Homo sapiens: one gene and its partners. The protein of the gene in region 3 interacts with the protein of the main gene of each other region in a biochemical or structural test. Each region holds a gene or a part of one and is shown on either strand. Other genes may lie near its edges.

Evidence for each region.
Region 1: of the proteins of PLK1 (region 3) and RACGAP1, one has a biochemical effect on the other in vitro, tested with the Homo sapiens proteins (3 studies listed by BioGRID and IntAct, with this or other methods).
Region 2: of the proteins of PLK1 (region 3) and CSN2, one has a biochemical effect on the other in vitro, tested with the Homo sapiens proteins (3 studies listed by BioGRID).

The regions. Positions count from the first base shown.
Region 1 is NC_000012.12:50,015,432-50,019,085, reverse strand, and holds part of RACGAP1 (rac GTPase-activating protein 1), read left to right. Parts: intron 1-496; exon of another isoform or gene 497-534; coding exon of another isoform or gene 535-570; intron 571-2,366; coding exon of another isoform or gene 2,367-2,370; coding exon 2,371-2,455; intron 2,456-3,654.
Region 2 is NC_000004.12:69,963,516-69,967,269, reverse strand, and holds the start of CSN2 (beta-casein isoform 1 precursor), read left to right. Parts: upstream 1-1,541; 5' UTR 1,542-1,589; intron 1,590-3,754. UniProt on the Homo sapiens protein: Important role in determination of the surface properties of the casein micelles.
Region 3 is NC_000016.10:23,681,849-23,685,502, forward strand, and holds part of PLK1 (serine/threonine-protein kinase PLK1), read left to right. Parts: intron 1-215; coding exon 216-309; intron 310-2,021; coding exon 2,022-2,241; intron 2,242-3,654. UniProt on the Homo sapiens protein: Serine/threonine-protein kinase that performs several important functions throughout M phase of the cell cycle, including the regulation of centrosome maturation and spindle assembly, the removal of cohesins from chromosome arms, the inactivation of anaphase-promoting complex/cyclosome (APC/C) inhibitors, and the regulation of mitotic exit and cytokinesis.

The DNA of each region.
Region 1 (3,654 bases), on a different chromosome or scaffold from region 3:
GCGACTGAGAGAATGATAAAAATAGGGAAATCAAAATTGGAAGTCAGTAGGGTATGGGATAGGGTAGGTCAGTGAGTAGCGTAGTTGATGGACATGAACAGGAAGAGTAGAACAGTGTCAGGAGGCTGAGGCCGGAGAATCACTTGAACCTGGGAAGCAGAGGTTGCAGTCAGCTGAGGTGGCGCCAGTGGACTCTGGCCTGGGGGACAGAGCAAGATTCTGTCTCAAAAAATTAAAAAAAAAAAAATGGACAAGAGAACAGGTTATATTGTAATTTAAGACTTAAAACCCCCCCTAAAAAAGCTTTTTTTTAAACAACCAGTTTTCAACATCCTAGCACCATGAAATTTTCCTTTTTGAATTCTTGGACAGATAGAAGTTTTGCCGTGGTATTGAGCTGTCTTATAGTCTCACGATATATAAGTGAATGCCGAGATGATAGAAAGTAATACCTTATATTAAAACTACTGATTAGAGTCTTCCATTTTTACCTCAGGAGAGCCAAAGGAAATCAACATTTGAATTGACTACCCAATGTCCTGCCCCTGTTTCTGTCCTGTAGCACTTAGGGTATGTTGCCTATTTCATTATATGTTAAATCCATGGCATCTCCATGAATTCCACAGCTCTTCCTGCCGGTTTTAATGCTATCCTTTTAGTTTTGTTCTTAGTTTAGAGAAAGATCTTTGTAATAAATTTGTTGGTCTGGTTGCTTAGCAGCTTGCTGTGATTATGTAGCTTGGAACAGATACTTGCCGTTTGAAAATCTTGGTTTCCGGCCCTGATTCAGGTATATGTTGCATCCAGGCTTGGAACTGAGAACTTTTTTTCTATTATAGCAATTATCATATGAGTATAAATGTATAATTCTGCAGCATTTAATATATAAAATATCTTCATGTTTATATATTCTTTTTTTTTTTTTTTTGAGACAGAGTCTTACTCTGGCACCCAGACTGGAGTGCAGTGGCACCATCTTAGCTTACTACAACCTCTGCCTCCCAGGTTCAAGCGATCCTCCTGCCTCAGCCTCCCAAGTAGCTGGAATTACAGGCACACATAACTGTGCCCAGCTAATTTTTGTGTTTTTAGAAGAGACGGGGTTTTGCCATGTTGGCTCAGGCTAGTCTCGAACTCCTGACCTCAAGTGATCCGCCCGCCTGGGCCTCCCAAAGTGCTGGGATTACAGGCGTGAGCTGCCGTGCCCAGCCTATGTTCATATATTCTTTGTCCTTTGTGCTTTTTTATATATTTTTTCTTGCTCTCATAGCTTGTGGTGCAATCTTGTAAACATTGCAAAATCACTAACCCTTCATAAGAGTTCTTAAAATTTTATTTAGGAAATAAGGACCTGGACTAGAATGTTGAAGCATTGGTTAAGAGAAACACAAGAATCCTTTAATGGTATTTCTGAGGACATTAAATTTCTAATAAAATTTGACTTTTTATTTCATTTCCTTGATAGTTTTCATAACATCCAGTTAATGTCTTTCTTTCTTGACTGTTAAGTGAAGATCTTATTTCCTCAAAGTGTTCCCAGTTAAAGTCTATTTGGAATAGAACCGCCTGTAACGACACTGTTTTTTCTATAGTATCAGCAGGCCTTTGAGGGGAAATACAAAGTCTGAAATTCACTATACAGGACACAGTAGCAAATGATTTTTGCTTTGCCCTTCGAACTGTGAAGGTGCTGTATTGTCTCTCTGATGCCAGAATGTGGTACAACATAATCCTTTGCCTCTACTTAGTATAAATTTATTAGACGTAGTTCCTGCACGCAGCCCAGCAGAGAGCCCTGTATTACAGAAATAATTCTTGTGCTGCTGAGCTGGCGATTTTCCCACTTAATCACTCATGTGACGTCATCTGTGCTTTTGGTAGGAAATGTGCTGACCATGTCCTGCATTTTAAAAGGCAGTTGCAACAGGGGCATTAGCTAAAAATGAAATTAAAAATAGATATTTTAAGTTACATTGTAGGTCTTCAAAGCCCACAAGGAATAAACTGGCAAAATTATTATATTAATCAATAGGCTTGACTTGAAGAACCACATTTTCTTGTTGGTCAGTCACTTGCTAATGAACTGACATGCTCTTTCCTATTTGTTTTCTGCTCCAAGTGATTGGAGGGGCTGTTATATTCAAAGGTCTGAAATGGTTTTCTAATTTTCAGATGAGTCTTAAACATTCCAAGTTTGTTTTTATAATAAGAATCACACAAAACATCTGTTGTTAGCTTGAGATTCTTATAATGGTAGTTATAAATGGAAGAGTCCAGATGTTGGTCACTAATGGCTGGATTGCTATAGAATCTTTTGTTGTGGGCGAGAAGGCAGGACCCCTAATGTATATTTGATTTCTTGGCAGAAAGATGGATACTATGATGCTGAATGTGCGGAATCTGTTTGAGCAGCTTGTGCGCCGGGTGGAGATTCTCAGTGAAGGAAATGAAGTCCGTAAGTCATTCTGAGCTGGCCTGTCCAAAGGAAAAACAGATTTCAAATTTGGGATTTTTACAAAGCTGAAGTATTTTCCAATCTTAAAGTTGTTTTCCATTTGGGTTACCTAAAAAGAAAGCAGTGATCACTTACGTGGTCAAAGCCTAATGGGCACTCATTCTAAATGGTCACTAAAATTCTTTTCTATAGCTGCTCTTAATAGGTTTTAGCCAGGCTTTTTTATTATCTTTATTTATTTATTTTTTTGAGATGGAGTCTCTCTCTGTCACCCAGGCTGGAGTGCAGTGGCGACATCTCGGCTCACTGCAACCTCTGCTCCCCGGGTTCAAGCGATTCCTTGTCTCAGCCTCTCGAGTAGCAGGGATTACAGACACACGCCACCACGCCCGGCTAATTTTTTGTATTTTTAGTAGAGACGGGATTTTGCCATGTTGCACAGGCTATTCTTGAACTTCTGACCTCAGGTGATCCGCCCGCCTCGGCCTCCCAAAGTGCTGGGATTACAGGCGTGAGCCACCGTGCCCGGCTGCTTTTTTATTATCAAGATTCTTTTTCCACTGAATAGTTGGCACTATTTTCTGTGCCATGAACTGGGAAAAATTTACTAGGATGTTGCTTTTTTCTTTAGAGTAGTAGTTGTCTTTTTTTTATCCTGGATTTTCTTTGTGTTCTATAAAGCATTTTCAGTTGAAGTGGGAAAAATTCATAATTTCTTCTTTTTTCTTTTTTTTTAAGAATCTCATTCTGTCACCCAGGTTGCGCCACCATGCCCAGCTACTTTAAAAAAAATTTTTTTTTAAATTTTTTTAATTTTTTTTTTATTTTTGAGATGGAGTCTTGCACTGTCACCCAGGCTGGAGTGCAGTGGTGCGATCTCGGCTCACTGCAAGCTCCGCCTCCTGGGTTCACGCCATTCTCCTGCCTCAGCCTCCTGAGTAGCTGGGACTACAGGCGCCCGCCACCACGTCCGGCTAATTTTTTTGTATTTTCAGTAGAGACGGGGTTTCGCTGTGTTAGCCAGGATGGTCTCGATCTCCTGACCTCGTGATCTGCCCGCCTCGGCCTCCCAAAGTGCTGGGATTACAGGCGTGAGCCACTGCGCCTGGCCTTAAAAATTTTTTGTAGAGATAAGGTCTCCCTATTTTACCCAGGCTAGTGTCCAACTCCTGGCCTCAAGCAGTCCTCTCACTTCTGCC
Region 2 (3,754 bases), on a different chromosome or scaffold from region 3:
TATTTTAATGAGAAGTTTGTCTTTTTATTGCCTAAGATGCCCAGGACCATTTCCCTACTTGAGATCATCATAATGTCTGTCTTAGGCTACTGCAATAACATAACATAACAACTTCCTTTACTAGGTTACCTGATTTGTTGTCATAAAGTCATGAAATCCAAGAAATTTTACAATCCATTTTTCTTTCAAATCTCTAATATATTTGCTTCCACTGAATTATGTCACAGTGCATGCCTGACATTCACAGTCATCCATGATCTGATTCTATCAAACCTCTGCAATTGTAACTTGCAATGTATGCCCTCTGAATATCCTCAAACTGGTATGTTGCTCTTTCAGTTCCTGTGTTTTCTTCAGCCAAAATATCTATCCCCATTTAATCATCTCGCAAAATTCTACTCATTCTCTAAGGCTCAACTAAAAGAGCAGTTCCTTAATGGCAAGCTCCCCTGCCACACACAGCACAGAGGCCCTACTTTTCCAATTCAGGCATAATTAAATTGTACATATTTCAACCAAATGCTACATTGATAGATAAATTTTATAAAAAATTATCAGAAGGTTAAAACATGGGCTCTGAGACTCACATGTGATCAAACAGAATCACATGTAGTCAGACAGATCTGAGTCCAACTGGTATCTTTGCCATTAACAATATGGTTTTGAGCAAGTTACTTAACCTTTTGGCATCTCTGTTTTCTCAACCTAAATATGAAGAGGAGAGCTACCTCATGATGTTCTTGTGCAGATTATACAAGATAATATCTTTGCTTAGTGCTTGGCAAAGGGTTAGAACTAAGCAAAAAAACCCATCATTAATATTATCATAATTATGCTTGACCTGAAAAGAGATAATCAATATTAAAAGGTAAATAAAACTCCGTGATACTTTGCAAAATTTTTATTACAGATTTACTGAAGATTTTGCCTATACCAGCCACCCAGATTCCCTCTTCAAGTTATTCCATTACAGAGGAAAGTTTATTTATCTTGTGTACAAAATATTTGTTTTAACTAAATTATTTTTTTTTCCAAATCAAGTGGCCCTGGGAGAAACAGTTTGCCTCACATAACTAAGCTACCATCATGGACTTGTTATCTTGTCAGTTTCTTCATTTCAGCATAAAGCACTAACAACTGCTTAGGTTCACATGAAACTGTGGCCTTTGTGAAGCCCTGTGTATATCTAGCGTTCACATACAATTTTCCCACAACTGAAATCTCAAGGCCCCACTAGGCCCTAAAGAGACCTAATTATGTCCATAATAACTTGGGGACAGGGCCAGAGTATCACTGTCCTCCAGTCATTGTCTTTTGTTATTGAATAATTGCATTTCCTGGACAGGTTTCTTTTATCAACTTGTGAATTGTTCCCTTGTTATAATGATGCCCAGAATTTCTGGGGATATGTAATAGGCAGAAATCATTTTCTAATCATGTGGACTTCTTGGAATTAAAGCTCGCTATTGATCTTATTTCAAATCACAAAATTAGTGTGTCATTAAATATAGTATATAAACAGTCACAGAAGCTGATGGACCATCATCCATCCAGCACTACCTTCACTTCTCTTCAATCTTGGAAAAACGGTAAGAATTTTAGATACAAATTTGTTGTATCTTCTCCTAACCATGTATTTCAAAGTAGCTTGAGCTATAGAAGGAACGTAGTTACTTAAAATATAGTGTTTGAAATAAAAGTATTTAAGGTAGTACTGAGATTATTTTTAACACTTAGGCTAAAAAAGATAGAAGTGCCCAGAAGAATTTGGTAATGACATATAGCCTTCATGAGTTTAAGAAAATATAATAGCTAATTTTATGCATATATATATATATATATATATATATATATATATATAGTATGAGGCTAGTTCATAGTTAATATTAAAAGGAGATTCATTTTTTTAATTAATCTTCCAATTTGATTTAGCATATCACAGTTATAAAAAGAATTATACTTCAATTATAGTATGGGTAGATAAATAATTACTGGAAAAGCTTTGTCCAGCAGGTAGTTTACAGCAGTAGCATACTGAGTTGAGAAATGGAGGGAATGGTATGGGGGCATTTACTACTTTAAATGTTTATAAACAATGTTTTTAGAAGAGTTTACTCATCAAACTTGTCTAGAGCCTCAAACTTCCCAGTTTATTATCTAGTTTGTAATATTTCAAAACAATATTAAAATGAGACAGAAATACAGAATTAAGTAAAAAAGAAACAATGTGGTTTACTTTGTAAGAAAATTCTTAATGGGGTAGAAAAGACTTGGAAACCATAAACAAAGATAATAGATGATATAAAAGAAAAAGTAGCTTAGAGTGTACCAGTTGATAATGAAGCTCTGGCTTAAAAATTAGTATATAAAAGTATACCAGTATGTAGTATATTTATAGTATAGAAATGAGTATAAAAACTAGTATAATTAGTATTAGTATATATTAGTATATTAGTATATAAATTAGCATTGTAATTATACATTCGTATATAAAATTATTATATATATTAGTAGATTAGTAATAAAACTAGTAAAGTTTATATTACTTATAAAATATAGAAAATGCTGTGGGATCTTCCCTATGTGTAATTATATATAATAGAGTGTTATATTCTGTTTCTGAACCCTGACATAAAAATTTGGGAACTTATAGTGGTCTTAGGCAAAGTAAAATTAATAAAAACTTAATTAACATTCATAAAAAATCTAGAAAAAATATTTGTTTTCTGTAATAGAATTATGTTCAACCTTCAAATATTGAAAAGAACATCTCTCAAATAAATTAAAGACTTTTTTGATGAAGTATTTTAGTTCAAAAATTTAGTTCAAAAATTGAGTTTCAATATCTGAGAATGAAGATTTGAGTGGTGAGTAATATTGTGGCACAAACATTATTTTGAAATAAATTACAAAAAAATGTAAGAACACATAACAAGGAGATGATTTAGTATATTTTGGTCAAAAATATTAACATATATTTCACAAGAAGAGGTAGTCCCAAGCTTAGCAGTGGGCAAGAGGCTCTGACCCCTTGGCGGATCATCAAGAGAATCGTGTGTACATTTCAATAAAGAGAAGAGAAGAAGCCTAGTGTACAATATCTAAAGTCATGTGGCATAAAGGAGAACAGACATTATTAGCTATGTGGGGAAGATGAATATAAACGGAGAAGAAACAAACTCAATAGTCCAATAAAGTCTCTGGATAGTGACACAAATAAGGAAAGTGTTAAAATGAAAACCTCAGTCTTATTGGAAATGAGGAGAAATAAACTAAAATAGTCATGGTAACCGTTTAGTGAAAAGAAAAAAGGTAAAAATAAAATGTGACTTTTTTGTACACATTTTCTTGATCAGTCTCTTCCAGTAGAACTGAGGCTCCATGAGGGAGTAATATCAGGACTGTAATATTTTGTTCATTGCTGCGGTCCTGGTCCCTAGACAGTGTCTGGCAAGAACAGATTCTAAAGAAATATTTTTAAGTTAATGAATAAATCTTTTTTTAAATTTTATTTGTCTTTTGAAATTATTATTATTATACTTTAAGTTTTAGGGTACATGTGCACAAAGTGCAGGTTTGTTACATATGTATACATGTGCCATGTTGGTGTGCTGCACCCATTAACACGTCATTTAACATTAGGTATATCTCCTAATGCTATCCCTCCCCACTCCCCCCACCCCACAACAGCCCCGGTGTGTGATGTTCCCCTTCCTGTGTCCGTGTGTTCCCATTGTTCAATTCCCACCTATGA
Region 3 (3,654 bases):
CCTGGTCTCACCATGTGTATTCTGCTGAGGGCTTATTCTAGCCAATGTCATGGCTTCTGGGGCTGCTCAGTGGACTTAGGGATTGTCTTCAGGGGCCCCAGAGTTAGAGTGAGTGTCCAGAGGATGCCTGACCTTTGTTCTGACCCTGAGATGATTTCTCTCATGTCTGGGTTGTGGCTGGGAGACTGGTGCCAAATCCTACCTTGTGCTTACAGGTATACCTTGTTAGTGGGCAAACCACCTTTTGAGACTTCTTGCCTAAAAGAGACCTACCTCCGGATCAAGAAGAATGAATACAGTATTCCCAAGGTGACTAATGATGCTTTAAGTTTACATTTATTTTGTTTTCCCCAGAAGCTGTTTATGGAGCCCAGCAATATCCTAGGACCAGAAATAGGTCTATCCCACCTCTAAGGTAGCCACAGAGCTTGAGAGGGCCTGTGTCTGAAATTGCATACAGAACTTGACATGTATGTGCACATAAGCATTTTTTCTAGGGGGAGAGAGTTGGCAGATTCTCAAGAGATTGGGTAACCCAAAAGTTGTGTAAAAAGCAAAAAACAAAGGAGGTAGGAAGGAGTAGGAGGCAAAAGTGCTTAATCTTTAGAAATGGTTTATCTTAATTCAAATGGATTCTGCCACTTAGCGAGATCACATTGGGCAAATGGCCTGCATCTTTTTTTTTTTTTTTTTTATTTGAGGTGGAGTTTTGCTCTTGTTGCCCAGTGCAGTGGCATGATCTTGACTCACTGCAACCTCCACCTCCCAGGTTCAAGCGATTCTCCTGCCTCAGCCTCCCAAGTAGCTGGGATTACAGGCACCCACCACCTCGCCTGGCTTTTTTTTTTTTTTTTTGTATTTTTAGTAGAGACGGGGTTTCACCATGTTGGCCAGGCTGGTCTCGAACTCCTGACCTCAGGTGATCCACCCGCCTTGGCCTCCCAAAGTGCTGGGATTACAGGCGTGAGCCACCATACCCAGCCTGGCCTGCATCTTCTGAACCATAGTTTCCATATATAAAGTGGAGTTCCTGCCTTGGAGCACCTCACAGAGTGCCTTGCATGTGGTGAGTGCTCTCAGAATTATGAATCACTGTGAATCCCAGGGCTTCCTAATGGCATAGTTGTGTGCATTTTCTTTTTTTTTTTTTTTTTTTTTTTGAGATGGAGTCTCGCTCTGTCGCCCAGGCTGGAATGCAGTGGTACAATCTCGGCTCACTGCAAGCTCTGCCTCCCAGGTTCATGGCATTCTCCCGCCTCAGCCTCCTGAGTAGCTGGAACTACAGGCACCAGCCACCATGCCCGGCTTCTTTTTTCTGTATTTGTGGTAGAGACAGGGTTTGACCGTGTTAGCCAGGATGGTCTCGATCTCCTGACCTTGTGATCCACCTGCTTCGGACTCCCTAAGTGCTGAGATTACAGGCGTGAGCCACCGCGCCCGGCCATGGTGTGCATTTTCACAACCACCAACAGAAATACATTTAAAGGAATAGCTGGTTCCTGCAGAAGCCTAGCACACAGCCAGTTTGAAGTGTAGTGTCCTTGTGTGAAGCCAGGAGGCCTGTCACCATAAGGACAGACATAGTAAATCCATCACAAAGTGTCAGTTCACTGTCAGAGACAGCATGGAATCAAGCCAGCTAGACAAGGCCTTCACCCTCTCTGTGCCTCACTTTCCTCCTCTGTGAAAAAGGGATGATAATAGATCCCCACCCCTTAGATGAGTTGGTGAGGGCTAAGTGAGCTAAACACAGGAGTGCTTAGAATGCTTTCCTGGCACATAGTGAGTGCTAGGAAAGTGAGTTGGTGTTCGGCCACAGTCCATTGACCCTTCTGTCAATGGTGCTCAGTAAAGCTGACAGTGGAGAACTTGGCATTGAACCAAGTTGTGAACCACTGACCTGTGGTGTATTTGAGACTGGGGGCTGCATGTGGGCTGGGGACCTGCAGCTCCTTTGAGGCCGTACTGTACTCCAGGTCCCCTTCACATTCTGCTTATGGCTGTCCCTCTCTCTGCCCCAGCACATCAACCCCGTGGCCGCCTCCCTCATCCAGAAGATGCTTCAGACAGATCCCACTGCCCGCCCAACCATTAACGAGCTGCTTAATGACGAGTTCTTTACTTCTGGCTATATCCCTGCCCGTCTCCCCATCACCTGCCTGACCATTCCACCAAGGTTTTCGATTGCTCCCAGCAGCCTGGACCCCAGCAACCGGAAGCCCCTCACAGTCCTCAATAAAGGTACAACAAGGGTCTGGGTAAGAGAGCAGACCCCCCAGAGAAAGCCCAGGTTGTAGGGGTGTGTGCAGCTTAGTCCCTGGCCCTGAGAGCTCAGGTGTGGAGTAGGACAGGCCTCTGTCCTTCAATCCGTGGTTCCAATGCCCATCTGCTTCTCGGCCCTGCCAGGAAAGACTGACCTTACCATGGCTGGATAAACGTACCATGCCCAAGAAGAAGAAAATGGATTGAATGCCAAGCCTGAAAAATTCTTTCAAATCACTTTAATTAATTTAATTTTTTGGAGACAGGGTCTCTCCTCTATTTTCCAGGTTGGAGTGCAGAGGCACAATCACAGCTCACTGCAGCTTTCAACTCTAGGGCTCAATTGATCCTCCCATCTCAGCCTCCCAAGTAGCTGGGACTGTCAGGCATGCACCACCATGCCTGGCTGACTTTTCTAATTTTTGTAGAGACAGTGTTTTGCCATGTTGCCCAGGCTGGTCTTGGAACTCCTGGGCTCAAGCGATCCTTTCACCTCCACCAAAGTGTTGGGATGACAGGCATGAGCTGCTACATCTGGCCTTTAAAAAAATTTCTAACACTTTTTCATGATTCATTGAAAAACATAAAAATTTCCTTTTTTTTGTGGCGTGATCCCGGCTCACTGCAAGCTCTGCCTCCCGGGTTCACGCCGTTCTCCTGCCTCAGCCTCCTGAGTAGCTGGGACTACAGGCGCCCACCACCATGCCCGGCTGTTTTTTTGTATCTTTTAGTAGAGACGGGGTTTCACTGTGTTAGCCAGGATGGTCTCAATCTCCTGACCTCGTGATCCGCCTGCCTCGGCCTCCCAAAGGGCTGAGATTACAGGCGTGAACCACCAGGCCCGGCCTTTTTTTTTTTTTTTTTTTTTTTTTTTTTTTTTTTTTTTTTTGAGACAGGGTCTGGCTCTGTCTCCTAGGCTGGAGGGGAGTGGTATGATCTCGATTTCACTAAGGATACATAGTTTTAAAAAGTCACTTGAAATACTTTTTTTCTCTGTGGATATATCACCAATTTGATGTACAACTTCAGTTCATTTTTCAGTTTTCAATTTTTAGGTATTGGTTTTTCTTAAACTTCATTTTGGAATAATTTTAGGCTTATACAGAAAAGTTGCAACAACAACAAAAAACTCCCCAGAGTTCCTACATACCTTGCAGCAATTATTACAGTGGAATTTTTTTTGAGACAGGTCTCAGGACTTGCTGTCACCCAGGCTGGAATGCAGTGGCTCACTCATAGCTTACTGCAGCCCCAACATCCTGGGCTCAAACAGTCCCCCTGCCTTACCCTCCAGAGTAGCTAGGACTACAGGCATGTGCCACCATACCCAGCTAATTAAAAAATTTTTTTCTTTGGGAGGCCGAGGTGGGTGGATTGCCCGAGCTCAGGAGT